7 linked regions of the Homo sapiens genome follow. The protein of the gene in region 7 purifies or fractionates together with the protein of the main gene of each other region. This does not show direct contact. Each region holds a gene or a part of one and is shown on either strand. Other genes may lie near its edges.

Evidence for each region.
Region 1: the proteins of CD83 (region 7) and DAB2IP purify together in Homo sapiens (affinity purification with mass spectrometry; 2 studies listed by BioGRID and IntAct, with this or other methods). This does not show direct contact.
Region 2: the proteins of CD83 (region 7) and SLC30A5 purify together in Homo sapiens (affinity purification with mass spectrometry; 2 studies listed by BioGRID and IntAct, with this or other methods). This does not show direct contact.
Region 3: the proteins of CD83 (region 7) and UGCG purify together in Homo sapiens (affinity purification with mass spectrometry; 2 studies listed by BioGRID and IntAct, with this or other methods). This does not show direct contact.
Region 4: the proteins of CD83 (region 7) and BMPR1A purify together in Homo sapiens (affinity purification with mass spectrometry; 2 studies listed by BioGRID and IntAct, with this or other methods). This does not show direct contact.
Region 5: the proteins of CD83 (region 7) and CD320 purify together in Homo sapiens (affinity purification with mass spectrometry; 2 studies listed by BioGRID and IntAct, with this or other methods). This does not show direct contact.
Region 6: the proteins of CD83 (region 7) and ATP7A purify together in Homo sapiens (affinity purification with mass spectrometry; 2 studies listed by BioGRID and IntAct, with this or other methods). This does not show direct contact.

The regions. Positions count from the first base shown.
Region 1 is NC_000009.12:121,765,776-121,770,133, forward strand, and holds part of DAB2IP (disabled homolog 2-interacting protein), read left to right. Parts: intron 1-718; coding exon 719-955; intron 956-2,656; coding exon 2,657-2,858; intron 2,859-4,358. UniProt on the Homo sapiens protein: Functions as a scaffold protein implicated in the regulation of a large spectrum of both general and specialized signaling pathways.
Region 2 is NC_000005.10:69,121,195-69,125,552, forward strand, and holds part of SLC30A5 (proton-coupled zinc antiporter SLC30A5), read left to right. Parts: intron 1-499; coding exon 500-701; intron 702-2,004; coding exon 2,005-2,231; intron 2,232-4,358. UniProt on the Homo sapiens protein: Together with SLC30A6 forms a functional proton-coupled zinc ion antiporter mediating zinc entry into the lumen of organelles along the secretory pathway.
Region 3 is NC_000009.12:111,899,458-111,903,815, forward strand, and holds part of UGCG (ceramide glucosyltransferase), read left to right. Parts: intron 1-4,358. UniProt on the Homo sapiens protein: Participates in the initial step of the glucosylceramide-based glycosphingolipid/GSL synthetic pathway at the cytosolic surface of the Golgi.
Region 4 is NC_000010.11:86,913,017-86,917,374, forward strand, and holds part of BMPR1A (bone morphogenetic protein receptor type-1A isoform 3 precursor), read left to right. Parts: intron 1-4,117; coding exon 4,118-4,310; intron 4,311-4,358. UniProt on the Homo sapiens protein: On ligand binding, forms a receptor complex consisting of two type II and two type I transmembrane serine/threonine kinases.
Region 5 is NC_000019.10:8,300,813-8,305,402, reverse strand, and holds the end of CD320 (CD320 antigen isoform 1 precursor), read left to right. Parts: intron 1-246; coding exon 247-372; intron 373-1,314; coding exon 1,315-1,548; intron 1,549-2,422; coding exon 2,423-2,626; intron 2,627-2,797; coding exon 2,798-2,940; 3' UTR 2,941-3,276; downstream 3,277-4,590. UniProt on the Homo sapiens protein: Receptor for transcobalamin saturated with cobalamin (TCbl). Plays an important role in cobalamin uptake. Plasma membrane protein that is expressed on follicular dendritic cells (FDC) and mediates interaction with germinal center B cells.
Region 6 is NC_000023.11:77,913,099-77,917,456, forward strand, and holds part of ATP7A (copper-transporting ATPase 1), read left to right. Parts: intron 1-4,358. UniProt on the Homo sapiens protein: ATP-driven copper (Cu(+)) ion pump that plays an important role in intracellular copper ion homeostasis.
Region 7 is NC_000006.12:14,134,575-14,138,067, forward strand, and holds the end of CD83 (CD83 antigen isoform a precursor), read left to right. Parts: intron 1-533; coding exon 534-662; 3' UTR 663-2,332; downstream 2,333-3,493. UniProt on the Homo sapiens protein: Transmembrane glycoprotein predominantly found on the surface of many immune cells including dendritic cells or lymphocytes that plays various roles in immune response regulation.

The sequences.
Region 1 (4,358 bases), on a different chromosome or scaffold from region 7:
ACCATGGCAGGCCAGGATGCCCAGTGGAACCAGGAGCCCCATTGTCTAGGGCCAGCTCTGCCGGCTTGCTCCATCACCCTGGGGCAGTCACTACCTCCCTTTCCCTCCCCATGTAGAGAATGGAGAGCTGTGTTGTCCCACCGTGTTCAGGGGTAGTCCCATCTTCTTGATCTTTCTGAGCTTTTAGGAAATCCTGGATTCCTGTGACATTATTCAAGCAAAGGAAATTAGTCTCAAAGCCAGTGATGGGAACCCAAGGAATAGTGGTCTATTCCTGTTTTCCTCACTTCCCCCTAGACCCAGATGCCTGCTGTTTGGGTTGAAAAATGAAGTAGACACTGGCAGAGAGGTGGGGAGGGCCCAGACCAGAAGCTGGAGAGGTGGTTCAGCACTGGCCCTTGGCAGTTAATTCCGGTTAGGACGGAGAGCCAGCTCCTCATGCCTCCTCCCATCCCACCTGCCCGGCCCTTCACTGAGAACCCACTGCCCGATGGGAGCCTGGGTCTCCCTGCTCCTCCTCCTGCCTGGGCACTTGCTCCAGCCACCCTGTATTGACTGCTCTCCCCAGATGGCTGTGTCCTCAGAGCTCAGACAGCGGGGCTGACCTCACGCAGCTGGCGGGGTAGAGCCAAGGTTGGAATGCAGGTTCCTGCTCTGTGCACTCCTGTCCTGGGCCCCTGCCTGACAGCCAAGCCCACCTTTGTCTGTCCCTACACAGTGTCTTCCCACGGGAGTTGAAAGAGGTGTTTGCCTCGTGGAGGCAGGAGTGCAGCAGTCGCGGCCGCCCGGACATCAGTGAGCGGCTCATCAGCGCCTCCCTCTTCCTGCGCTTCCTCTGCCCAGCCATCATGTCGCCCTCACTCTTCAACCTGCTGCAGGAGTACCCTGATGACCGCACTGCCCGCACCCTCACCCTCATCGCCAAGGTCACCCAGAACCTGGCCAACTTTGCCAAGTGAGTGCCTCCTCCCTCACCAGGCAGAGTTGGGCAGGGCTGGTGTCCACAGGGCAGGCCCTGGGGGTGTTTCTGCCCCCAAGCTGAGCAGAGACCATAAACAGGCCCTGGTTTTGTCCCTGTCATCCTCAGTCCTTCTCCTTCCCGCTTTTTAAAAAATAAAATCTCCACACCCTGTCCTTCTACTCAAGGTATATGTCATTTTGGTATGTTTCTTAATTTTTAAAGGTGACGACATGAGACATTTTTTTCCTTCTGCTTTTTTGAATTAATGTATTATTATAAGGATTCTCACATATCCCTTAACATTCATTAAGCCCTGTTTTGAAATAAATGACTAATATTCCTCCAAGGGGGACTGGCCCATATTTCCTTAATCCATTCCCTGTGCTTGGGCACTTGGGTTGGGCACCACCATCCTGGTGTCAGGCTATCAGGATGTCTTTGCTGATAAAGCACTATTGGTGTTTTTGGCTGCATCCTTAGAGCAAGTGGGCAGAAGTAGAAGGGCTGGGTCGTCTCACTGTTGTTCATTCTCAAAACATAGATTGAGCCCCATCCTGGGGCCATCTGTGTGCTGGGCTCTGACGGCACCAAGATGAATCAGTCCTGGTGGCGCTCAGCACTTCAGCCAGGGAGACGTGTGGAATGAGCAGGAGAGCAGTGATAGACACACACGAGCCTCTTAGGAGGGCTCTCAGCTTGTTGGGAGAGGAGACAGGAAAGCCTCCAGGGTGACATGATCCCCCAACTGCATGTCAGGGTGAGGCGTTCATTGTCTCAAGAGGAGCAGAGGCTGGGCATCCCAGGGAGGGCCATGCACTGTGCCAGGTCAGGAGAAGCGGGCGATGAGACCTAAGAGGACAGCAGGGACCTGAAGGCCAGACAGGGCTGTGGGAGCCACCAGAGGGTTTTAAACAAGGGAGAGGATGGCCTTCCTCTGTTCTGGATCCTGAAAAGCTCACCCTGACAGCAGTGGGCAGATGGGTTGGAGGGAGCAGGATGGTAGCCAGGAGACGTGAAAGGAGAGCATAGCTGTGGTTCCAGCAACAATAGCAGAAAATTCGCAGGGAGGGGAGCGGGTACAGGAGGCAGTGGCTGCAAGGGACAAGGTTAGGGGTGATTAGAAGGCAAAATCAGTGGGCCGTGCCATTTGGGAATGAGGAAGAGGGAGGAGTTGACAGCTGCCAGAGATTCTGTCTCAGGTGTATCTGTATGGGTAGTGGGGTCTCCACTTAGGGTAGGGAGCTCAGGAGGAGGGCATGGGTTTGGGTGTTGATGATGACTTCAGGTGTGGCAGGCTGAGTAGGAGGGACTCCCAGGGGTGGTGCCTGCAGATATATTAATACATGCCTGAAAGCTCATTGGGAGACCTGGGTTGAGCAGGGATTGAGCATCATCTGCATACCAGGGCAGTGAAACTTGGAGGAAAAGCCGAAGGACACTGTTAACAGGCAGTGTATGGGGGACACAGAACATTCCAGGTCCTGAGATAAAAGGTTCAGAAAAGGATCGCTGGACTTACCATGAGCAAGGAGGGCCCTGGTGACCTGGGTCAGAGCATATTCAGCTGACTTGGGGAGTGAATGGAGTGGGAGCCTGCCATAGTGGGGAAAGCGGGTGGTGGTGTCCCAGTGGAGGGAGTTCCTGGGCAGGGCCTGCCTGGGCCCAGTAGTGCTCACCCAACTGCCCTCTCTCCAGATTTGGCAGCAAGGAGGAATACATGTCCTTCATGAACCAGTTCCTAGAGCATGAGTGGACCAACATGCAGCGCTTCCTGCTGGAGATCTCCAACCCCGAGACCCTCTCCAATACAGCCGGCTTCGAGGGCTACATCGACCTGGGCCGCGAGCTCTCCAGCCTGCACTCACTGCTCTGGGAGGCCGTCAGCCAGCTGGAGCAGGTGCCTGTTGCCGTGGGGCGGAGGTGGGGCCAAAAGCTGCCATCAGGCTTTTAGTGTTCCCCCTTCCAGAGTAACCATGGAGGGCAGAGAGTTTGCCCAAGTGGCATGATCAGGCCAGGTCCTGTCAGAACACACTGGGGATCTGTGGGCCCCATTTTCTCTGTGGGCAAATGCTATGTTCACTCAGCAGTATCTGCCAAGGCTGCCCCACTCTGGGTACTAGAGCTGGGGTGTTCCGCATGCACTCAGCCTTTAGTGGACAAGCGCCACTGTGCTGCCTGCCAGAGCATGTGAGAAATAGAATTGGATCGTGAATCCGCCTGTATGAAGAAGATGACTCAAGACCCTGTACCTCCACTTGTCCAGCAGGAAGTCGAAAACCTTTCTAGGATTGCCCTTGACCATCAGTTGACAAGGTTACTCCCTAGACACCTCTGACACTGCTGCAGTCACCTGAAGTGAGCCCTCCCTAGCCCGAGACTTCACTGACCCCCAGCCTCAGCCCACACAGTGAGCAACTAGTTCTTGGACTTAAGGGCTGGGTCTACCAGGAACTACTTCCCGAATATCTGTTGCTTTCTAGGGCTCCAAGGGACCACCTTACTTTTGTAAGGTGCTGAAACTGGCCTGGAAGGCCCTTCATGCCTCCTGGTCCCATTCCCTAGAGGTGACCGCTCAGAGCACTGGTATGCAGCCTTCTGGACACGATCTGTGCATGTGTAAGCGCACACACACATGCAGGCGCACACACATAGAGCTCTTTTCCTTCTTCAGTTTGTTTTAAAGCAAGAACATACTGTGTATGCTGCTGTGTGCATTTCTTACCACTGTGTTGTGGGCCTCTTTGCTTGTCAGTGCAATCTCCACCACCCCCAGGGACTTTTTAATGACTGCATTGTATGAATGCTATTTATTTCACCAGTCCCCTATTGATGGACACTTAGGTTAGTCCTGACTTTTCACTAGAAATAGGTCCTGTTGCAATCAAAGGCCATCATTTTTGCTCATTTGTATCCACTTGCCTTTGGCTGTGAGAGACACAGGAGGGAGAAATGGAAATGAGGGCTGAGACCCTACATTCCACCTGTTCCAGTCCCTGCACTGCAGCCAACACTAGTCACTGTCACTGCCACCACTTACCTTTCCCCTGTGCTGTCCACGTATCTGCACAACCAGGCAGGAAGAATGGAAGGTGATCAGTATTGTCACATCGGTGATAGGGTGCAACAGGGATTTGAAACTCAACTGTTTGCCTCTCAATTGCGTGCTCTATTGCCTGCATGAGTTTTCACACTTTGTTTTCTCACAGAGACCTCTGTGGAAGCTTGTGCATAAACAGGTGAAGGCAGTGTCCCCAAAGCCTAGAATCCTCTGCCCCTTAAGTTCTCTAAAGCGTGCCAGCAAGGTTCAGATGGGTTCAGGCACTGCCTTCTGCCTGACCAGCACCTGAGGGTGCCTGCAGTGTGCTTGGACCATCTCCACTGGGGCTCAGGTGCCAAG
Region 2 (4,358 bases), on a different chromosome or scaffold from region 7:
TTATTATACTTGTTTTACTTTGGAAAATTTTACTGTGTTTAAGACATAATAAGACCATATTTGGAATCTGCTCATTAATAAATTATAATTGTTGGCATATAAACTGTTCAAATTTACCTAGCAATATAAAGATTTCAGGTACAGTGTATACTTGCCCTAGTAAGCAGTACTTTCAAACTCTTCAATAAACAAAACAAAACTTTGCATCATTTATTTATACATAAACCATAAACCAAGTACATACCATTCTTAATTGAAATAAGTCCAAATTCCTCTACTTACCAATTCTGCTTGATATTTGAAAGTTAAAATGTTTCTTCTAAAATGTTCTAAAATTCACATTTTTAAAATTTTGGACTTACTGAAACTTAGTAAGGTTTTACTGTGAATACTTTCAAAACTGTAAACAGAAAAACATATATAGCTATATAATAACTTTTAAATAACAAGTCTATTTTTAAATTACTAATTTAAAGGTTTTTTTTCTCCCTTTTGCTAGCCAGTCTCAGTTGGAGGGCTGATAGTAAACCTTATTGGTATCTGTGCCTTTAGCCATGCCCATAGCCATGCCCATGGAGCTTCTCAAGGAAGCTGTCACTCATCTGATCACAGCCATTCACACCATATGCATGGACACAGTGACCATGGGCATGGTCACAGCCACGGATCTGCGGGTGGAGGCATGAATGCTAACATGAGGGGTGAGTCCTTGCAAAATATTATCCTACTTTTCAACTGTGTTCTAAATCAACCCTCTGTGTTTATTTGTATTAAGTTTTGGGCTTCTGGTATGATATGATTTTTAAAAAGCAATCTGTGACTAAAAGAAAGGTCTGAAGCTATCACTATAGAAAATATTCTTACCTGAATACACATAAAATTAAATATTATTCAGCCTTTAAAAAGAGGGACATTCTGGCTGGGAGCATGGTGGTTCACGCCTGTTAATCCCAGCAATTTGGGAGGCTGAGGCGGGAGTACCACCTGAGGACAGGAGTTCAAGACCAGCCTGGCCAATATGGTGAAACCCTGTGCCTACTAAAAATACAAAAATTAGCCGGACATGGTGGCAGGTGCTTGTAATCCCAGCTACTCAGGAGGCCGAGGCAGAAGAATCGCTTACAGGTGTGAGCCACCATGCCTGGCCGTCACAGAAAATTTTTTAAAAAGAAAATGAGGCTGGGAACAGTGGCTCACATCTGTAATCCTAGCACTTTGGGAGGCCAAGGTGGGTGGATCACCTGAGGTCAGGAGTTCGAGACCAGTCTCTCCAACATGGTGAAACCCTGTCTCTACTAAAAATACATAACTTAGCCAGGTGTGGTGGCAGGCGCCTGTAGTCTCAGCTACTCAGGAGGCTGAGACACGAGAATCACTTGAACCTGGGAGATGGAGGTTGCAGTGAGCCAAGATTACGCCACTTTACTCCAGCCTGGGCAACAGAGTGAGACTCTATCCAAAACAAAAAGAAAATGAAAATATATTTGTTCTTAAATGTTAGTTTTTAAATGATTATAATTATATAGTCCTTTTCATAGTGACAGCTGAATAGATATTAGTTGCAAGGTAAACACAGTGTGCTATTATGAACCTTCATTACAAAAAGGAAATTCTTACTCCTTTTTTAGAAATTTTTATTGCACTATAAAAAAAATGGAGGAAGTACTAATCATTTATTTTGCTGAATTGTTTATTCTGATTGCTTAATATAAGTAATGTGGGTAATGTCAAAACTTGCCTCAAGTATGATTTTTGGGAAGCCTTTCCAGACAAAGTACACCATAAAATTTGGCACGCTGTGTCATGAGTGCCTATGTCCTTATATTTTTACCACTGTATTCTGAATTCCTTGAGGGCAGTGACCATGTTTTAGGCATTTTGAAGTACTAGCCAGTAGCAGAGTATGTGGTGCACAGTAGGTATCCAGTAATATTAGTAGAATGTATTAAAAAACTAAATTAGATGTGCCTTAATTTTTAATGTCCTTATATATTTTATTTGTAGGTGTATTTCTACATGTTTTGGCAGATACACTTGGCAGCATTGGTGTGATCGTATCCACAGTTCTTATAGAGCAGTTTGGATGGTTCATCGCTGACCCACTCTGTTCTCTTTTTATTGCTATATTAATATTTCTCAGTGTTGTTCCACTGATTAAAGATGCCTGCCAGGTTCTACTCCTGAGATTGCCACCAGAATATGAAAAAGAACTACATATTGCTTTAGAAAAGGTACTGTATGTAATTTCTTCACTACTTTCTTCCTTGAAAATCACATTTTTGAAGTCTTTGCTGGAAGTAAAACAGACAACCAAATAAATAATAAAACAAAACGAGGCCAAAAAAGAAATATAAAGTAGCATTTAAAATTTAATAAGTTGACCTAACAAGAAATATGCAAGATATAAATGAGAAAAATACAGTTTTACTTAAAGGATATAAAACAGGGACCGAATAGATGGATGAGATTTTCTTGGATGAGAAGACTCTTTATTATAATGATGTTGATTTTATTTTATTTAGATTTCAATTTAGTTGCCTTCATTGGATATTTTTGTTTATGGTTTGGGATGTTCTAAAATTATTTGGAACTTACTTGGAAGAGTTAGCGCTTGAGAATAAGAAAACATACATAAACTTACAGAATTAATTAATAGGATCCTACTTTGCAATTATAAAGTAGCAGAATTAAGTGACAAAACTAACAGTTTAGATCGAGACCATCCTGGCTAACAAGGTGAAACCCCGTCTCTACTAAAAATACAAAAAATTAGCCGGGCGTGGTGGCGGGCACCTGTAGTCCCAGCTACTCGGGAGGCTGAGGCAGGAGAATGGCGTGAACCCGGGAGGCAGAGCTTGCAGTGAGCCGAGACCACGCCACTACACTTCAGCCTGGGTGACAGAGCGAGACTCCACCTCAAAAAAAAAAAAAAAAAACCTAACAGTTTGGTCCTTGCACAAGAATAAAGACATAAATCAACTTTTAAAAAAATAATAAGTTCCCATTCTTGTGACCTGGGATTGTTTCCTGGACAGCACAAAAAAAAAAATAGTAACAATAATAATAGGTTGTCTGTAAAAGAAGAAATAATAAAAAATGAAAATAAATGAAGAATTATGGTATGTAATGTAAAAGAAGAAATAAAAATAGGTTGTCCAGAAACAGACCCAGGAGTTTATGGAATTCAGTATATAGCAAAGATGGTATTTTAGATCACTGGGGAGAAATAGTTGACCTAAATAACCAGCTTTTGGTTAATTACTTCTTTACTTTGTGGGGAAAAAAAAGCTATATCTCTATACCATATTATATAAAAATACATTTCCAGTGGATTAAATATGTAAATGACAAAAAAATTATGAAACTACTAAATAGAGAAATATTTTTGTTTGTTTGTTTTTTGAGACAGTCTTGCTCTGTTGCCAGGCTGGAGTGGAGGGGCGCAATCCCAGCTCACTGCAACCTCCACCTCCCGGGTTCAAGCGATTCTCCTGCCTCAGCCTCCCAAGTTGCTGGGATTACAGGCCTACCACACCCAGCTAATTTTTGTATTTTAGTAGAGATGGGGTTTCGCCATGTTGGCCAGGCTGGTCTTGAACTCCTGACCTCAAGCTATCCACCCACCTTGGCCTCCCAAAGTGCTGGGATTACAGGTGTGAGCCACTGCACCCCGCCAGAAAAATATGTTTATAATCACAAAGATAGGGAAAGACTTTTTAATATACTTGAAACCAGAGGCCAAAAAGGGAGGATAAAATTTACAAATTTGACCAGTTGAAAATTGCCAGTTGGTGGAAGATTTCATTAACAAGTATAAAACATAAAAGGCAGACCAGGAAAAAACATTTGCAGCACATATAAACAGGCAAAGGTTTACTGTCCATAATTCTTTAAGTCAAGAAAAAGACAATCTTAGCTGTGCATGGTGGCTCATGCCTGTAATCCAGCACTTTGGGAGGCTGAGGTGAGCAGATCACCTGAGGCCAGGAGTTCAAGGTCAGCCTGGCCAACATGGTGAAAGTCCATCTCTACTAAAAATACAAAAATTAGGGTCGGGCACGGTGGCTCACGCCTGTAATCCCAGCACTTTGGGAGGCTGAGGCAGGCAGATCACGAGGTCAGGTGATTGAGACCATCCTGGCTAACATGATGAAACCCCATCTCTACTAAAAATATAAAAAATTAGCCGGGCATGGTGGCGGGCACCTGTAATCCAAGCTACTCAGGAGGCTGAGTCAGTAGAATCGCTTGAACCCAGGAGGTGGAGGTTGCAGTGAGCTGAGATCACGCCATGGCAACAGAGCGAGACTGGCAACAGAGCGAGACTCTGTCCTTCCCCACACACAAAAAAAAAAATT
Region 3 (4,358 bases), on a different chromosome or scaffold from region 7:
AATCCTTTGCCTGTGCTGCAATCTGTTGCTGAATTCATCTTTCTGATATAAAGGTTGTTTTCTGTCACATGTAGCATTCTTTTCCCCAGTCTGTTTTTTGTCTTTTAACTTTGTACATATATTTGACATGGAGAAAAGTGTGTGTGCATGTGTGTTTTAGGTAGATAGGTCTTTCCGTTTCTTTTACATTTTCTAACTCTGTTATAATTTTTATATCTTCCTTATTCCTCCAAATTATTATATATGTTAGTCTCTGCTTCCTCTTAGTATTTTTTTCTTAATTTTTTCACATATTACCCTGAATTCACCCAGTATTTTACTTCGTTATATGAGAGCTAGAGCCCTAATTATAGTTTCTTCTAAATATTTAGAGACTTGTCCAGAATTACTTATCAGATGATTATTTGATTATTCCACTGTTTTGAAATATTTTTATTATAAACTAAATTCTGCTTTATACTTGGGTATGTTTCAAAGCTTCTATTGCCCTTTCTTAACCTATTTTAGATGGCAGATGTTTGTAGGATTTCTGCCAACAATGTCAAAGGTAACATTCAGATTAGAGACATTTCAAATTCAAGAGTCTTATTGTTGAGATTGAAGATTTCCTAAAAATAACTAAAGAGTATAGCCTTGGCAAGTTAAATAGCCTTTATGGGTTAATTTTTTTTTTTTTTTTTAATGGTAAGTGCTAGTGTGGCTTGATAGGTTGGGGCCTAAGGTGAAATTGTATAAAAGCCTAGACCTGATGGTAGTGTTTCTCTTCTAGCCCTTGGGAGCCACGTTGCTGCGTGATGAAGTGATCTAAGCAGAAACCTTGCTTCATGCTCTCTTCCCTATCCCATCCACCTCATATTATTATTATTTCCCTGTGTACATAAGGTCCTAATGTTTATCATCAGGCTTTATCTTTCGACTGGAGGTGCTAGGCTAGTGTGGAAATAATTTATGTGTCCTTAAATATTAGCTACCCTCAAGTAAAACAGAGGTCCTTTTTTACCTGGAGGTGTATATGTATATGTGTGTGTGTGTGTGTGTGTGTATTCTTTCTTTGATACAGGGTCTTGCTCTGTTGCTTAGGCTGGAGTGCAATGGCACGATCTTGGCTGACTGCAACCACCGCATCCCAGGCTGAAATGATTCTCCTGCTTCAGCTTCCTAAGTAGCTCCCAAGTAGCTGGGACTACAGGCATGCCTGGCTAATTTTTGTGCTTTTTGTAGAGACAGGGTTCTGCCATGTTTCCCAGGCTGGTCTTGAACTCCTGGACTTAAGTGATCTACCTGTCTTGGCTCCCAAAGTGCTGGGATTACAGGTGTGAGCCATCATGCCTGGCCCCCTGGAGATTTTTTAAGTTTTTTTTAAAGTTAATTCTGCTTTCTACAAACGTATTTCCTTTATTTTGTTTATTGTTATTTTTTTGAGACAGTCCTCTCTGTTGCCCAGGCTGGAATGCAGTGGCTCGATCACGGCTTCACATCCCAGGCTCGAGCAATTCTCCCACCTCAGCCTCCCAAGTAGCTGGGACTACCGGTGCATGCCATCACGCCCAGCTAATTTTTGTCACCCAGGCTGGTCTCAAACTCCTGGGCTCAAGTGATCCCCCCACCTTGGCCTCCTGAAGTTCTGGGATTACGGGCGTGAGCCACTGCGCCCAACCCAAATATGCTATCTCTAATGTACAGCAACTTCAATACCTGATGCACAGTTTTTGAATGGAATTTGCATACTCATTGTGTCAGGATAACTGCGATAAACTACCCGTCAAAAACTGGTTATGTTTTTCATGTAAATTTTAGCATTTGGGATATTATTTTTAGTTAGTACGATCTTTGCCTTAAATTCATGAATACTTGGTGTTCCAAGCCTTAGTGGAATGTAAATTGAGAACGTCTTTTTTGGGTTTAGTCCTGCCAATGCCCTTGGACTGTGGTCAAACGTTCATCAGTCAGGATCATTGCTACAGGGCTACTTTCAGGGAAATGAATAAGGCAGTCCAGCAATTCAGCCCCTTTAACCTGAGCCTGGGAAGATACGGAATTAGACTATAGTGTGATAGCTTTAAAGAACAAAGTGAGGGGCAGTGTGGGGAGGGAGAGCATCAAGAAGAATAGTTAATAGATACTGGGCTTAATACCTCGGTGATGGGATGACCTGGGCAGCAAACCACCATGGCACATGTTTACCTACGTAACAAACCTGCACATCCTGCACATGTACCCCTGAACTTAAAAGTTGAAGAAAAGAAAAAGAGCAAAGTGGAAATTGCAAGATTTTAGTATTCAGTGATGGTTCTATTGATTCATTATCCCTGCCTTTCTCTCTGACATTAGTTAGTTCAGCACACCTTCATATCTATCCTAGATGTTGAAGCTATGTCTACTCGCTGGTATCTCTAGCTGCAGCCTTGTGCCCCCTCGATTTTATATTTCTTATTGTAGCCTTTATCCTTCTGGATTACTAATCTTGGATCACAGTAGCTTAAAATCTTACCATGAATCCTCATTGCCTCCGGGTTACAGTTCAAACTCCTTAATGAGACAAGCACAGCTCTGTAGGAGCTGAACCAGCAACGTTGTATTACTGGCATTTCCCCAAATGTACAATGTGCTTTCTTTGGAATTGTCTTTACTTTCTTTCTTTTTTCTTTCTCTTCCTTCTTTCCTTCCAAAAATCTTGCTTAATTAACTCCTACTCGTTCAAGTCATTTTAGACTTTAGTTCCTTATTGGGTTAGGTGCCCCTTATGGCACCCAGCCATCTCCTATTTGTTTTCTATGGTGGTGGAATCTTCTACATTCTATAGTGTAGTAAGCCCATTGTCCAGTGGGCAGAGTTTGTGTTTTCCTATAGAGCTAACTCACTATTGGTTATTTTACCTTCTGTGAGAGAATTTGTGTTAGCAAGGTTAAGCTTGCACAAGAAGGTGTGCTTTATATTGCTTATGAAGCCCATTTTGAAGCAATACCATTTTTGAAATAAGTGATACAGGTAGTAAATTGGTCATGATATACTGATTATAAACAAACAGTAATATAGTCATGAGTGATAACAATAACAAAGGTCATTAGTCACTGGAAATTGCTGGCATGGACTATGTGAAGTTAGGGACTTGCTGATATAGCAGTGAACCTAATTTTACACGAAATACTAACAAGCTTTGTGACTTGGAGCAGGGAAGATAAATTCCTAGAGTCAGATAAATTGGTTCAGCAGAACCACACAGCGGAATTATAAAAACAACACATTCTGGGGTTGTTAAGCAAGGTGAACTTTTGCCCTTGTGGAATTCATATTCTTCCTTAGAAACCTAGAGTGAAATTCTCTCTTTTTTTTTTTTTGAGACAGAGTCTCATTCTGTTGCCCAGGCTGGATGGCAGTGGTGCGATCTCGGCTTACTGCAACCTCCGCCTTCTGGGTTTGAGTGATTCTTGTGCCTCAGCCTCCCAAGCAGCTGAGACTACAAGCACGTGCCACCACACCCCGCTAATTTTTGTACTTTCAGTAGAGGTGGGGTTTCATGATGTTGGCCAGTCTGGTCTTGAACTCCTGGCCTCAAGTGATTCCCCCATCTCAGCCCAGCAAAGTGCTGGGATTACAGGCATGAGCCACTGTACCCAGCCGAGTGAAATTCTTGTGCCTCACTTGTGAGGAGCTGTATTAAGGTTGCTGCAGAGGCTGCTTCCCGCCATCTGAAGGGGAAGGAGCCCACCCTCCTTGTTTAACCTTTACCTGTCTCCAGTGGGTTTCCCTGCATCCCAGGCTTCCCTCTTGCAAAAGCCAAATTTGAAAACAGAACTGTAAAAGAAGTTATTTAAAAATGAGACAGACAGGGCGTGGTGGCTCACGCCTGTAATCCCAGCACTTTGGGAGGCCGAGGCAGGCAGATCACCTGAGGTCAGGAGTTCAAGACCAGCCTGACCAACGTGGCAAAACCCCATCTCTACTAAAAATACAAAAATTAGCTGGGTGTGGTGGCAGGCGCCTGTAATCCCAGCTACTTGGGAGGCAGAGACAGGAGAATCGCTTGAACCCAGGAGGTGGGGCTTGCAGTGAGCCAAGATTGTGCCACTGCACTCCAGTGTGGGTGACAGAGCAAGACTCTGCCTCAGAAAAAAAAGAAAAATGTTCCCACCTTGGCTTTTTTTCTTTTCTTTTTGAGATAGGGTCTCGCTCTGTTACCCAGGCTGGAGTGCAGTAGTGCGATCATGGCTCACCACAGCCTTGACCTCCCAGGCTCAAGCAGTCCTCCTACCTCAGCCTCCTGGGTAGCTGGGACTACAGGCACATGCCACCACGCCTGGCTGATTTTTGTGTTTTTTGTAGAGACGGGGTTCCGCCGTGTTGGCTAGGCTGGTCTC
Region 4 (4,358 bases), on a different chromosome or scaffold from region 7:
TATTTGAGAGGACCTGTATTATGAACACTAGATATCCAGATAGGTTTAAGTTTTTAATTGTATTAGTTGAAAGAAACTGATCTCTTCTTATTTTATTTTATTTTACTTTATTTTATTTTAATCGTATCGAGATAGTCTTGCTCTGTCACCCAGGCTGGAGTGCAGTGGCCCAGTCTTCGGCTCACTGCAACCCCTGCTTCCCAAGTTCAAGCAATTCCCGTCTCAGCCTCCGAAGTAGCTGGAATTACCAGATGCACCACCACACCAGGCTAATTTTTTTTTTTTTTTTTTTTTGAGGGATGAGGTTTCTCCATGTTGGCCAGGCTGGTCTCAAACTCCTGGCCTCAACTGATCCTTCCACCTTGGCTCCTAAAGTGCTGGGATTACAGGTGTGAACCACCGCACCCACCCTGATCTCTAATTTTGAAATTCATCTTATTAAATAACTCTAATTGAATTGGAAAGGTAAAAGTAAAACTGCCTTCATAGGCAGACAACATGATTGTTTACGTAGAAAATCCCAAGAATGGTACAATAAAACTACTGCAGCCAGTAAATGACTTTATCAGGTTGCAGAATACAGAGTCATTGTACAAATACCATTGAATTTATAGGCTCTAGCAACAAACAATTAGGTAATTATAAAAACAGTATTTAAAATAGCATCAAAAACCATGAAATATTTAGAATAAGCCTAACAATTTATGCAAGACCTGCACACTGAAAATTATAAAACATTGCTGAAAGAAATTAATAAAGCCCTAAATAAGTGGAGATGTTTATAAATCTGAGGACTCAGTATTAAGATTTCAGTTTTCCTCAAATTGGTGTGTAATTTCATTCGAATCCAAATGAAAATCAGAGCAAACTTTTATAGCAATTGATGTATATTCTAACATTTATATGGAAATGCAAAGGACTAGAAGAGCCAAAACAATTTTGAAGTAGAAGAACAAAGAGGAATCACTACCTGATTTCTGGACTTACCGTAAAACTCAATAATGATCTCAATTTGGTACTGGCATAAGGATAGATGTATTGATGAATGGAACAGATTATGGAGTTTAGAAAGGAACATGCACTTAATATGGTTAATTGATTAAAAAAAAAAAAACAAAAAGATGCCCAAGTAATTCAATTGGAAAAAGGCAGTCCATTTAACAGATGGTGCAGGAAATATCAGGAATCCATTTACCAAGAAGTTAATCTCAGTCCTTACCTCCTCACTCTATACCAAATTAACTTGAAATGTAGCATAGACCTAAATGTAAAAGTTGAAGTATAAAACCTCTAAAAGAAAATGTCTGAAAAAATTATTCTGACCTTGGGCAGACTTCTTCAGTACATAAAAAACACAAATCATTTTTTTAATGATAAATCAGGCTTTATCAAAATTTAAAACTTCTGCTATTTAGAAGACAAGAAAATGAGAAGACAAGTCACAGATTGGCAAAACAGATCTGATACAGGGTTTTTGTGCAAAATATATAAAGACCTTTTGCAACTCAATAATAAGATAACCCAATTTTTTTAAAAAATGGACAAAAGATTTGAACAGACACTTCCCCAAAGAAGATATAAGAATGGCAAACAAGCACATGAAAAGATGCTCAGCATCAGCAGGGATATACAAATTAAACACAGTAAGATACTACTGCACATCCACTAGTATAGCTAAGACTGATAATATTAAGTGGTGCCAAAGATGTAGATCAACTAGAAATCTCATACATTGCTGGTTGGAATGCAAAATGGTATGGCTATTTTGAAAAATAGTTTGACAATTGCCTGGAAAGTTAAGGGCATACTTTCCGTACAATGAAGCAATCCTTCTGCTAATTATTTACCCAAGAGATATGAAAACTTGTCCACACCAGAGGCCTGAATGTGAATGTTTATAGCAGTTTTATTTATAATAGACATAAACTGGAAACAACCCCAAAGCTCATGAATTGCTAAATGAATAAACAAATGCTGGTACATTCATACAGTGGAATATTACTCATCAGTAAAAAGGAACAACTTCTAACACATGTAGCAGCAACAGTGGGTGAATTTCAAAAGTACTTTATGCTACATGAAAGAAGCCAGACACAAAAGGCTACACAAAAGTGATTCTCCTGCCTCAGCCTCCCAAGTAGCTGGGATTAAGGCATGCACCACCATGCCCAGCTAATTTTTGTATTTTTTTTTAAGTAGAGACAGGGTTTCACCATGTTGGCCAGGCTGGTCTTGAACTCCTGACCTCAGGTGATCCACCCGCCTCGGCCTCCCAAAGTGTTGGGATTACAGGCGTGAGCCACCACGCCTGGCCAAAAAGTGAGAATTTTTTTACGTTATTAAAATATTCTGTATCTTAATTGTGGTATTGGTGATTACATGATATAGATTTGTCCAAGGCTTGTTGAACTTTTCTCAAAAAGGGTACATTTTATATAAATTATACCTCAATAATCTTGACTTAAAAACTTACAGGCTGAGGCAGGCAGATCACTTGAGGTCAGGTGTTCGAGACCAGTCTGGCCAACATGGTGAAACCCTGTCTCTACTAAAAATACAAAAATTAGCTGGACGTGGTGGCAGATGCCTGTAATCCCAGCTGCTCGGGAGGCTGAGGCAGGAAATTGTTTTAACTGGGGAGGCAGAAGTTGCAGTGAGCTGAGATTGGCCGCCGCACTCCAGCCTGAGCAACGGAGCGAGACTCTGTCTCAAAAAAACAGAACAAAATTTACAAAAGGATTCTATAATAAATGATACATAAAGTCACTTTAGCTTTGCACTAAATCTAGTCCATTTTAGAAGCATTTCCAACTTGGAGCATAATGTTCTTTTTAATTTAGAATGATCACTAATGCTTCTGAAAATGAAAGATAACAATCCATGTACATCTTTTATTTAACAAATATTAAAGTACTTCTGATATTGTCCCAAATAAATACTTATATTCTGTGAGCAGGGGATGGAATTCAAGCAAATATATATGTAAATAAGAATAAAGTTATGATTGTGTTAAGCGCAGCAACTGAGAGGTTTTGTGTGCTATGAAGGTGTTTAAGTGAGAAAATAGCACTCTAAGTAAAGGGAACTGGATATTCAAAAAAACCCAGCGACAGGAATAAGCTTGAGTGAATTCTAAAAGTTGAGATAAGTCAAACGAGGTTTGTGGGTGGGTGGTCAAAGCAAATAATGGGACCAGGCCAGATCAGGCAGGGTCTTATAGATGGGATTTTTAAGATCTTTAACTGTTATTTGGACTTTGCTGCATAATAAACCACCCCAAAACTTAGTGATGTGAAGCAACAAACATTATTTCTCATTCTGTGAGTCTGTGGGGCAGTTCATTTGTTGGACTTGCTTAGCTAGAGCTAGGTGGTGTAGTTCACACCCTTGGCCGACAGTTCATGCTGCCATTATTTTTTGGTCACAGGGTTCCCAAAGCAGCAGGAAGGGGGCAAGCCCCAGTCCACAAACATTTGTCAGGTCTTTGCTTGCATCACGTTCGCTGTTGTTCTTTTATCCAAAGCAAGTCATGTGGCCTAAGCCCTGAGTCTGTGGACCAAGACTACCCACGACTGTGTGCACTGGGAGGGTAATTATTATGACCATTTTTGCAAACAGCCAGCCACTTGAATAACCTGTTTATGATTTCAGAATACATTGTACATTGTTTCATACTTTAAAGTACATTATGGCCGGGCATGGTGGCTCACGCCTGTAATCCCAGCATTATGGGAGGCCGGGGGTGGGGTGGATCACCTGAGGTCAGGAGTTCAAGACCAGCCTGGTCAACGTGGCTAAACCCCATCTCTACTAAAAATACAAAAAAATTAGCTGGGCATGGTGGCGGGTGTCTGTAATCCCAGCTACTTGGGAGGCTGAGGCAGGAGAATCACTTGAATCTAAAAGGTGAAGGTTGCAGTGAGCCGAGATCGCGCCACTGCACTCCATCCTGGGTGACAGAGCGAGACTCCATCTCAAAAAAAAAAAAGTACATTATAAGTTTTTAACTGGAGTTGGTTGGGTACACCATGCTTTTTGATGAGATGGACTACCCCTTTGCCAGTCTTAATGGGTTTCTTTCATCAAGAGCTCAAACCTTTTACTTTTTTCTATAAAGGTTCAGCGAACTATTGCCAAACAGATTCAGATGGTCCGGCAAGTTGGTAAAGGCCGATATGGAGAAGTATGGATGGGCAAATGGCGTGGCGAAAAAGTGGCGGTGAAAGTATTCTTTACCACTGAAGAAGCCAGCTGGTTTCGAGAAACAGAAATCTACCAAACTGTGCTAATGCGCCATGAAAACATACTTGGTGGGTACACACTGATTCAGTCAATTTCATTTTTGACAAGGCTAGTGA
Region 5 (4,590 bases), on a different chromosome or scaffold from region 7:
CTCTTGGTTCCTTTCTCTGTAACCTGGGGAGTGCAGTAGCACCTGCCCAGTGGGGCTCTTGAGCCCAGGAACTGCTACACTCTGAACCCCACTCGTACTAGGGGCTCAGTAACAAGCAGCCGCCAGTGTGGTTCCTATATCCCGGGACTTCGCCTGTCTCCTGCGGATCACAGCCAGTGACTACTGTGCTCTTGGAGAAAGGTCCAGCCTCCAGCTTCCCAGGCTTCATTTGCATCCATCTCGCAGGCCCCAGCTCAGGCTCGTGCCCACCCACCAAGTTCCAGTGCCGCACCAGTGGCTTATGCGTGCCCCTCACCTGGCGCTGCGACAGGGACTTGGACTGCAGCGATGGCAGCGATGAGGAGGAGTGCAGTGAGTGGCCACGCCCCTTGGCGGGGCTTACAGGGGGCGGGGCCTGAGGGTGGTTTGTCAGGGGCCAGGCACGCGGAGGTGGAGCTTGTGGGAAAGGCAGGGCCGCAGGGATGGGTGCGACTTGGGTCTGTGGGTCATAAGAAGCGGGGTCTAAGATGGGCTTGGGCTGGGCGCAGTGGCTCACGCCTGCAATCCCAGCACTTTGGGAGGCTAGGGTGGGAGGATCGATCACTTGATCCTGGGAGGTTGCCGCTGCAGTGAGCTAGGATTGTGCCAGTGCACTCCAGCCTGGGCAACAGAGTAAGACTGTCTCAGGAAAAAAAAAGAAAAAGAAAAAAAAAAGAAAAATGAAAGAAAGGAAAGAAAGGAAGGAAAGAGAGAGGGAGGGAGCCAGGTACGGTGGCTCACACATGTAATCCCAGCACTTTGGGAGGCCAAGGCAGGCGGATCACTTGAGGTCAGGCGTTCGAGACCAGCCTGGCCAACACAGTGAAACCCCATCTCTACTAAAAATACAAAAGTTAGCTGGATGTGGCGGCAGGCCCCTGTAATCCCAGCTAGTCAGGAGGCTAAGGCAGGAGAATCACTTGACCCTGGGAGGCAGAGGTTTCAGTGAGTCGAGATTGCGCCACTGCACTGCAGCCTGGGCAGCAAAGGGAGACCCCGTCTCAAAAGAAAAAATAAAGAAAGAAACAAACAAACAAATAGAATAAAGTGGGCTTGTAGGAAGGTAGAGCTAGTGGGGTCTCAGGGGAAGAGCTTGCAGGGAGGCCTGTCCTTAGAAAGTGGAGTTAACAGTTGCAGGGGGCGGAGCCTTAGGAAGGGAGCATTTTTTTGGGCTCAGCTGTTCTTAGAGGGTGGGGCTTGCAGGGGATGGGGTTTCAGGGAGTACCTGGGCCTTCTTGGGTGGGCATTTGGGACCTGACCAACCCTGTGCCCCAGGGATTGAGCCATGTACCCAGAAAGGGCAATGCCCACCGCCCCCTGGCCTCCCCTGCCCCTGCACCGGCGTCAGTGACTGCTCTGGGGGAACTGACAAGAAACTGCGCAACTGCAGCCGCCTGGCCTGCCTAGCAGGCGAGCTCCGTTGCACGCTGAGCGATGACTGCATTCCACTCACGTGGCGCTGCGACGGCCACCCAGACTGTCCCGACTCCAGCGACGAGCTCGGCTGTGGTATGCACCTGCGGGGCTGGGGTGGACTCGTGGGTAGATGGGGACACCCACTGCCTGCTGGGGCGTGGCCAGGCTGGGGGCGTGGACACATGCCTTTGCCCGTGCCTGCATCCCTGTGGGGGAATCAAGACATCATTAGGGGCCGGGCCCGGTGGCTCACGCCTGTAATCCCAGCACTTTGGGAGGCTGAGGTGGGCGGATCATCTGAGGTCAGGATTTCGAGACCTGCCTGGCAAACACTGCGAAACCCCGTCTCTACTAAAAGTACAAAAAAATTTGCTGGGCATGGTGGCACACACCTGTAATCCGAGCTACTCAGGAGGCTGAGTCAGGAGAACCGCTTGAACCTGGGAGGCAGAGGTTGCAGTGAGCTGAGATTGGGCCACTGCACACCAGTCTGGGTGACAGCAAAACTCTGTCTCAAAAAAATTTAAAAAAGGCCGGGCACGGTGGCTAACGCCTGTAATCCTAGCACTTTGGGAGGCCGAGGCAGGCAGATCACCTGAGGTGAGGTGTTCGAGACCAGTCTGGCCAACATGGCGAAATCCTGTCTCTACTAAAAATACAAAAGTTAGCTAGGCGTGGTGGCGTGCACCTGTAATCCCAGCTACTCGGGAGGCTAAGACAGGATAATTGTTTGAACTCAGGAGGCAGAGGTTTCACTGAGCCAATATTGCGCCACTGCACTCCAGCCTGGGTGGCAGAGCCAGACTCCCTCTCCAAAAAAAAAAAAAAAAAAAGACATAATTACGGGCAGTCAGCTTCACCCAGCCTGGTTGGTTGAGGATAAACCCCAAGGGCTCCCCTGGGCATCTGGCCCCCTCACGCCTTCAGTGCTCTCTCCTCAACTACTGAACGCCTGGGCTTATTGCAGGAACCAATGAGATCCTCCCGGAAGGGGATGCCACAACCATGGGGCCCCCTGTGACCCTGGAGAGTGTCACCTCTCTCAGGAATGCCACAACCATGGGGCCCCCTGTGACCCTGGAGAGTGTCCCCTCTGTCGGGAATGCCACATCCTCCTCTGCCGGAGACCAGTCTGGAAGCCCAACTGCCTATGGGGTTATTGCAGCTGCTGGTAAGAGGGACTTACCCTCCCATGCTGGGGGCTTAGAGCTCCGGGGATTCAGGGGAGGTGGGTGGGGAGGGATGAGCTGCAGAACTCCCATCCCCATGTGTATGGAGCTTGGTGGGTGTGGGGGCTCTTGCCTTCCCCCTCCTTACTCCTCTGTCCATCTGTTCCCCACAGCGGTGCTCAGTGCAAGCCTGGTCACCGCCACCCTCCTCCTTTTGTCCTGGCTCCGAGCCCAGGAGCGCCTCCGCCCACTGGGGTTACTGGTGGCCATGAAGGAGTCCCTGCTGCTGTCAGAACAGAAGACCTCGCTGCCCTGAGGACAAGCACTTGCCACCACCGTCACTCAGCCCTGGGCGTAGCCGGACAGGAGGAGAGCAGTGATGCGGATGGGTACCCGGGCACACCAGCCCTCAGAGACCTGAGCTCTTCTGGCCACGTGGAACCTCGAACCCGAGCTCCTGCAGAAGTGGCCCTGGAGATTGAGGGTCCCTGGACACTCCCTATGGAGATCCGGGGAGCTAGGATGGGGAACCTGCCACAGCCAGAACTGAGGGGCTGGCCCCAGGCAGCTCCCAGGGGGTAGAACGGCCCTGTGCTTAAGACACTCCTGCTGCCCCGTCTGAGGGTGGCAATTAAAGTTGCTTCACATCCTCCGCCTGCCTCTGGGTCTCTGTCTCCCTTGGCCTGGGCAGCCTGGGGTCGCTGCTGCAGCCCCTCCTCCATGAGAGCCCAGCCCATAGAAGGTGGGACATGGACACCCAGCCCTGTGTGCAGCTACTGTGCTGCTTGCTTTTTGGGAGCAGGGGCAGCAGGGCTGGGGTGGGGAGTCTGCGTTAACATCAGGATTCTTGGAAGAAGAGCAGAGCTTGGGCAGTGCCTTCCCATTCCCAGGTCTGGGGACCCCCACCCACTGTGGCTTCCTCCTCAGTGCAGTGGAAGCCAGGTTTCCTGGGATGGTCTCAGACTCACCCTGTTTTAATTATTTTTTAATTATGTTTTTAGAGACTGCGTTTTGGCCGGGCACAGTGGCTCACACCTGTAATCCCAGCACTTTGGGAGGCCGAGAGGTGGGCGGATCACCTGAGGTCAGGAGTTCGAGACCAGCCTGGCCAATATGGTGAAACCCTGTCTCTACCAAAAATACAAAAAATTGGTTGGGTGTGGTGGCAGGCGTCTGTAATCCCAGCTACTCGGGAGGCTGAGACAGGAGAATCCCTTGAACCTGGGAGGTGGAAATTGCAGTGAGCTGAGATCACGCCATTGTACTGCAGCCTGGGTGACAGAGTGAGACTCTGTCTCAAAAAAGAAAAAAAAGGTTTTATTATTTATCCTGGGCATCATAGGGATCTCTGCAAATTTTTTTTTTTTTTTTTTTTTTTGAGACAGAGTTTCGTTCTTGTTGCTGGGATTACAGGCATGTGCCACCCCACCTGGCTAATTTTGTATTTTTAGTAGATAAGGGGTTTCTCCATGTTGGTCAGGCTGGTCTTGAACTCCCGACCTCAGGTGATCCGCCCGCCTCGGCCTCCTAAAGTGCTGGGATTACAGGCGTGAACCACTGTGCCTGGCCTATACATTTTTTTTTAACTAGCTGTGGGTGGTGGTGTGCACTTGTAGTCTCAGCTACTTGGGAGGCTGAAGTAGGAGGATTGCTTGAGCCTGGGAGGTCCAGGCTGCAGTGAGCCGTGATCAGGCCACTGCATTCCAGCCTGCGTGTCACAGCAAGACTGTCTCAAAAAACAAACAAAAACAAGTAATGTACTTGAATCATCCTGAAACCATCCCCACCCCTGGTCCGTGGAAAAATTGTCTTCCATGAAACCAGTCCCTGCTGCCAAAAAGGTTGGTGACCGGTAAAGTTAATTCACACCCTGACTTCTGGGTGACAGGGCAAAGTTCCTCCCTTATCCTCAGCTTCTGAATCTCTGAATGGGATGTTGGGGGCCACAGTAGCCTCCTTGCAGGGG
Region 6 (4,358 bases), on a different chromosome or scaffold from region 7:
TAAAAAAATAAATTCCTTGTTATAACTCCTTTTATCTATATATTTAAAAGCTCTTGGCAAACTTTATTAATCAAGACTTTGGACATCCTGATGAGTGAAAATAATCTTCATTTGCCAGTTGGGAAAGTAAATTGCAAGGAGAGATTTTTGTCTGAACTCATAGAAGCACTAGCATAGATGAGAATAGTATTTGGGAGTTTTGTCTCAAAATTCCTTCTATTCATCTTTGTTAAAGGGCAGTTCAGGTTTTAGCGTTTTGTTTTTAGACAACGATATTTCTTAGGATATAGCTCAACATGGGGCCGGGGCAAGGGGGAGGCTGGGGGACAGATGAGTGATAGGCAATGGTTAGGCAGAGTATTTTAGTTCACTCTACCATCCCAGCAATCATGTTTTTCCCTCTTAAATCTCAGTCTTCAGGTTGATTTAATGTGATATTACTTGCTTACTTAACTTGCTGAGATAGTTTGGCAGGAAAAATATCAAAATTCCTTTAGAATGTGTTTCATTAAAGTAAAAGGGTCCTGTGTTTCTGATTTTATAAAATGTTCTTACTTTTTCCAGCACTGTTTGCAAATTGAAGTGATTTCCTAATCTTTTTGTGCCCAAATGTATGAGATATTGGTAGACTACATCAGTTTTCACAGATACCTCTTTCCTTGAAGGAAATGAGGGTAAAATACCCCATTTTGAGTCAGTTATGTGTACTTTGTACCATATTTTCTGTTCACATTTAAAATTATACAGCTATGTCTCAAGGATGAAAAAAGAGTTTTACTTATTTTTACTATTAATCTCTAGTGTAGAAGTCCAGTTTTTCAGACCTATAATCAGGAGTGCATTTTTAACAATTTACCAGTTGAAATAAATGGGTTATTTCACATTGTAGGGATATTGTTTTAGACTGGCCATTAACCTTATTTTATTTTATTTTTATTTTAAAAGATGTTATTGTTATTATTTATCTATGTATTTATTTCTAGAGGCAGGGCCTCGCTCTGTGGCCCAGGCTAGGGTGCCATGGCACAATCATAGCTCACTGCAGCCTTAATCTCCTGGGCTCAAATGATCCTCTGGCCTCTCAAGTAGCTGGAACCACAGGCGCATGCCACCATGCCTAGCTACTTATTTATTAATTAATTATTATTTTTTAAATAATATTATTTTTAAGAGATGGGGTCTTGCTCTGTCACCCAGGCTGGAGTGCAGTGGCGCCATCATAACTCACTGCAGTCTCGATCTCCCAGGCTCAAGCGATCCTCCTACCTCAGCCTCCTGAGTAGCTGGGACTATAGGTGTGTGCCACCACTCCCAGCTAATTTTTAAACTTTTTGTAGAGACAGCATCGTGCTGTGCAGTGGTGCTATCTCGGCTCACTGCAACCTCCGCCTCCTGGGTTCTAGTGATTCTCTTGCTTCAGTCTCCCAAGTAGCGGGGATTACAGGTGCGCGCCACCACACTTGGTTAGTTTTTGTATTTTTGGTAGAGAAGGGGTTTTGCCATGTTGGTCAGGCTGGTATCGAACTCCTGACTGACCTCAAGTGATCCACCCTCCTCAGCCTCCCAAAGTGCTGGGATTACAGGCATGAGCCACTGTGCCAGGCCTTAAAACACCTAGTGTTAAAAATGGTGTCTTAATTGTATTCTCAGATTCTCCTAGAAAGAAAAGATATACTAAATGTATATTTAGATATACTAAAACACCTAATGTTTATTTTTGTTTATTTATTTTTGAGATGGAGTCTGGCTCTGTCACCTAGGCTGGAGTGAAATGGTCTATGTTTGTTTTTTCATCTTGACAGTAATATCTTTGAACATTTTCTGGAGTATTAGATATTATTCTCTTGATGCTTCAAGGTATCTTAACTTCACCATTGTATTGCGATATATTGTTTTGGAGAGACAGTATAATATAGGATTAAGAGTGGAGGCTAGGTGGGGCACAGTTGCTCACGCCTGTAATCCCAGCACTTTGGGAGGCCGTGGCAGGCGGATTGCTTGAGCCCAGGCGTTCGAGACCAGCCTGGGCAACATAGGGAAACCCTGTCTCTACAAAAAATACAAAAATTAGCTGAGTGTGTTGGCACGTGCCTGTAGTCCCAGCTACTCAGGAGGCTGAGGTGGAAGGATCGCTTGAGCCTGGAAGGTTGAGGCTGCAGTGAGCTGAGATCACACCACTGCACTCCACCCTGGATGAGAGAGTGACAGAGTGAGACCCTGTCTTGTCCGGAAAAAAAAAAAAAGCCTGTCTTGTCTGGCTCAGTCCAGGTGCTAGACTGTCTAGGTGGGATCCCAGCCCCTCTGCTTACTACTTGTATGACCCTGCGCAGATTTCATACTCCTCTGTGCCTCAGTTCCTTCAAATTTCTAAAATGGGGACAATAACAGTACCTGTCTCACAGGATTGTTAATGATCTAATACATGTACGGTGTCTGGCAGATAGTAAACATACAATAAAATGTAGTTACCTTTAATATTTTAATATATTATTTACTGTAAAAGTAATTTTAACATCCTATATAATAAAATTATAAATTACAGTTTTGCTGTACTATAAATTTAGTAGACTACAGGATCAATATACTAATCAATCAATACTTGCAAGCAATATTTAAATTCTTTAAAAAAATTTTTTTTGGAGACAGGGTCTTGCTCCGTAGCCCAGGCTGGAGTTGCAATGGCACGATCTCGGCTCACTGCAACCTCTGCCTCCAGGGTTCAAGCGATTCTCATGCCTCAGCCCCCCGAGTAGATGGGGTTACAGGCGTGTGCCACCACACCCGGCTAATTTATTTATTTTTAGTAGAGATGGGGTTTCGCCATGTTGGCCAGCCTGGTCTCAAACTCCTGGCCTCAGGTGATCTGTCCGCTTCAGCCTCCCAAAGTGCTGGGATTACAGGTTTGAGCTACCGCTCCCGGCCCTGCCACCACGCCCGGCACAATACTTAATTTCTAACTTACACCATAGAAAATTGGCCGGTGCGGTGGCTCACGCCTGTAATCTCAGCACTTTGGGAGGCTGAGGTGGGTAGATTGCTTGAATTCAGGAGTTCCAGACCAGCCTGGGCAACAAGGTGAAACCCCATCTCTACAAAAATTACAAAAAATAGCCAGGTGTGGTGGCATGCGCCTATAGTCCCAGCTACTGGGGAGGCTAAAGTGGGGGAATTGCTTGAGCCTGGGAGGTTGAGGCTGCAATGAGCTGAGATCATGCCACTGCAGTCCAGCCTGGGTGACAGAGTGAGACCCTGTCTCAAAAAAAAAAAAAAAAAGAAAAAAAAAGAGAAAGAAAATGGAAAACTCAGATTGAGAGGGTCCCCCAGTAGCCTATAGTACACCTACATATGCTAACATGGCATCTTAAAGCTCATTATTACAGCTGGCAAATCAAATCACTGTGATGTGCTCATCCTATTTCCCTATCAAGAAAACTCATAACAATCTGCTTCTGTAATTAGTGAGCCACAGACTCTAGGCCATCGAGATTTTCCACATTCCCTAATTGTCAAATGCTGAACCATACTTGTACTGAATAAGTTGTGATACAGTGTAAGCAAGGGAAAAGGCCTTATGTATGTCTAACCTACTCTGCAAATAGCTGCATTCTTACAAAGTTGTGTGTAAATTGAATTTTTACAAAGCATGTCAGCACTTTGATTAGTACATTTTTATTGTGTGCTTATTGCATATTCAGTGTTTCCTGTGAGCTATACAAAGAAGCATAAGGCATATGTTCCAATGTCTAGCAAGAGAAAGAAGTTTAATACCAAGCAGAGAGAAATTAGGTACTACTAAACTATGAAACTGATTCCAGGGTATTCGGAATTTAAAAAGAAAGTGGCTAGGAGTATTTGACATGATTTTTCATGAAGGAGGTGGGACTTCAGTTCATTTACTTACTCAACAGTGATTTATTGAGTAGCCACCATGTTCACTGGTGGTATGATAGTGAACAGAGCAGATATGGTCCTGTTTCTGTGGAGTTTACAGACTAGTGAAGTAATAGAACTTAAATATGTGCAAGAAAACATTCTAGGTGAGGGGACCAGTTCTAAACAAAGTCATAGAAATAAATGATAAGAGCATGGACTATATGGCAATCAGTGAAGGGACTTGCTTGATTGTAGTAGAGATTTTATGTTGGGGAGGAGCACTGCAAGTGATAGATGCAGACCATCTTTTGAATGCTTTGAAGAACTATTTAAGTCTGTCTAAAAGTCCTTTGGATACACTGTTCTGGAGAGGGTTTGGGGCTTTGGGGTCATACTGCCTTGGTTTGATCTCATCTCTACTCTAATTTGTTTAAGTTTAGAATTTTATAGTAAGTTTTCTCAGTGACACAACTCTATAGGCAACA
Region 7 (3,493 bases):
CTATTCACTTACTTGCCTCTCTGGCTGTGCACTCATCTCTCTGGTTTCTATTTTAGATACCAGTCAATCAGAGACTCCAGTGAGCACCTACTATGTTCAAGGCATTATGCTAGGCACTGTACAGGGCATAAAAAGGTGTAAGACATTGTTCCTGCCCTCAAGGAGCTTACAGTTAGGATGTTAGGGTTATTTGCGTATAAGAAGATAATTAGAGTTACCAGGCAGTATGTTTTAAACATGAATGACTTTAGCTTCTTGTTGGAAAATGCCTGCTTCTGTGGGCATTGACTTTCCATACAGAGACCTAACAGTAGGGGGTCGAAATGGCCACAATCAGTGAATCTCCTGGTCCAAGTTTAGAGACGCCAGTGAAATGGTTGGTACAAATCCCTTGTGGAGCGAGTGAGGCAGTGAGTATGAGAGCTTCCAGAATGGGTTGTCTAGCCAGCTCTTAGTGAATAGAGTTTAAAAGGAGGTGACAACTGCTGAATTTTTCCAATTATTCACTTCACATTTCTTTCATTTCTTTTTAGAAGTTTGCACGGCTACAGAGTATCTTCCCAGATTTTTCTAAAGCTGGCATGGAACGAGCTTTTCTCCCAGTTACCTCCCCAAATAAGCATTTAGGGCTAGTGACTCCTCACAAGACAGAACTGGTATGAGCAGGATTTCTGCAGGTTCTTCTTCCTGAAGCTGAGGCTCAGGGGTGTGCCTGTCTGTTACACTGGAGGAGAGAAGAATGAGCCTACGCTGAAGATGGCATCCTGTGAAGTCCTTCACCTCACTGAAAACATCTGGAAGGGGATCCCACCCCATTTTCTGTGGGCAGGCCTCGAAAACCATCACATGACCACATAGCATGAGGCCACTGCTGCTTCTCCATGGCCACCTTTTCAGCGATGTATGCAGCTATCTGGTCAACCTCCTGGACATTTTTTCAGTCATATAAAAGCTATGGTGAGATGCAGCTGGAAAAGGGTCTTGGGAAATATGAATGCCCCCAGCTGGCCCGTGACAGACTCCTGAGGACAGCTGTCCTCTTCTGCATCTTGGGGACATCTCTTTGAATTTTCTGTGTTTTGCTGTACCAGCCCAGATGTTTTACGTCTGGGAGAAATTGACAGATCAAGCTGTGAGACAGTGGGAAATATTTAGCAAATAATTTCCTGGTGTGAAGGTCCTGCTATTACTAAGGAGTAATCTGTGTACAAAGAAATAACAAGTCGATGAACTATTCCCCAGCAGGGTCTTTTCATCTGGGAAAGACATCCATAAAGAAGCAATAAAGAAGAGTGCCACATTTATTTTTATATCTATATGTACTTGTCAAAGAAGGTTTGTGTTTTTCTGCTTTTGAAATCTGTATCTGTAGTGAGATAGCATTGTGAACTGACAGGCAGCCTGGACATAGAGAGGGAGAAGAAGTCAGAGAGGGTGACAAGATAGAGAGCTATTTAATGGCCGGCTGGAAATGCTGGGCTGACGGTGCAGTCTGGGTGCTCGCCCACTTGTCCCACTATCTGGGTGCATGATCTTGAGCAAGTTCCTTCTGGTGTCTGCTTTCTCCATTGTAAACCACAAGGCTGTTGCATGGGCTAATGAAGATCATATACGTGAAAATTATTTGAAAACATATAAAGCACTATACAGATTCGAAACTCCATTGAGTCATTATCCTTGCTATGATGATGGTGTTTTGGGGATGAGAGGGTGCTATCCATTTCTCATGTTTTCCATTGTTTGAAACAAAGAAGGTTACCAAGAAGCCTTTCCTGTAGCCTTCTGTAGGAATTCTTTTGGGGAAGTGAGGAAGCCAGGTCCACGGTCTGTTCTTGAAGCAGTAGCCTAACACACTCCAAGATATGGACACACGGGAGCCGCTGGCAGAAGGGACTTCACGAAGTGTTGCATGGATGTTTTAGCCATTGTTGGCTTTCCCTTATCAAACTTGGGCCCTTCCCTTCTTGGTTTCCAAAGGCATTTTATTGCTTGAGTTATATGTTCACTGTCCCCCTAATATTAGGGAGTAAAACGGATACCAAGTTGATTTAGTGTTTTTACCTCTGTCTTGGCTTTCATGTTATTAAACGTATGCATGTGAAGAAAGGGTGTTTTTCTGTTTTATATTCAACTCATAAGACTTTGGGATAGGAAAAATGAGTAATGGTTACTAGGCTTAATACCTGGGTGATTACATAATCTGTACAATGAACCCCCATGATGTAAGTTTACCTATGTAACAAACCTGCACTTATACCCATGAACTTAAAATGAAAGTTAAAAATAAAAAACATATACAAATAAAAAAATCCCGACTTTGGGATGAGTGCTAGGATGTTGTAAACCAGTTTGAGAATCAGAATCCAAAATGAGAGCTGAAAGATTGGCTGAGTCTTTCTCGGAGGGAGGGCATGCTGGCAGACAGAGCTTTGTAAACAGCATCCTCCTTCCCAGAGATGCTTCTGCTTCCATCCTGGGGCCACGTTGCTACCCAGTACATGAGCAGCTCATACTAACATGCACGGTCATGGGTGGGCGGGATGGAGGGAGGGTTTCTGCTTCAGAAAGATGTGTAACATCAGGGGCTTTGTGCCTGGATTCATGGGTTTCACTCAAGATTCTCAAATAGGTCCCTTCCCCCCAAAATGTTAAGAACGATGTGGTCTAAGTAGTTGTAATAGTTATAAAAGCATCAGGCCAGGCACGGTGACTCATGCCTGTAATCCCAGCACTTTGGGAGGCCGAGGCAGGCGGATAACGAGGTCAGGAGATCGAGACCATCCTGGCTGACACGGTGAAACCCCGTGTCTACTAAAAATACAAAAAATTAGCCGGGCGTGGTGGCGGGTGCCTGTAGTCCCAGCTACTCAGGAGGCTGAGACAGGAGAATGGCATGAACCCTGGAGGCAGAGCTTGCAGTGAGCCGTGATTGTGCCACTGCACTGCAGCCTGGGCGACAGAGCAAGACTCCGTCTCAAAAAAAAAAAAAGCATCATAAGTGGAAGTCTCTTTACAAAGATGAATACACATAAAATGTCTCTAAAAGCTGTGGAATCACTTTCAATGGAATCAAGTCTGTTCTCAAATGCTTTACCAAAAGTGCCAGGGCATGGTAATTGAGAGTTCACAGAGCTCCTAGTCACCTGAGTGTGTAGCCCAGCTTCAAGATTTGGAAGTTATATTTCCTTGGGCAGAGGACTTACCCCTCTAAGCCTTAGCTGGCCAATCTTTAAAATAAGAATAGTATCTGCCTAATAGGTTTATTGTGAGGATTAAATAAGATAATATATAGAAGCAGTAAGCCTAGTGTGTAGCAAAAGGTAAGCCTTTGACTGATATTAGAACAAGAAAGGAGAAAAAGGTAGCAGAGAAAGTATCAGTAACCATAAATCTTTGACAAAGTGGTTTTGTTAAAAGGAATGAATTGGCTTGGTGAAGGAGTCATGCTGCTTTCAGAGGATTAATACTCAGTGTACTAAAATTCTTCGTGGCC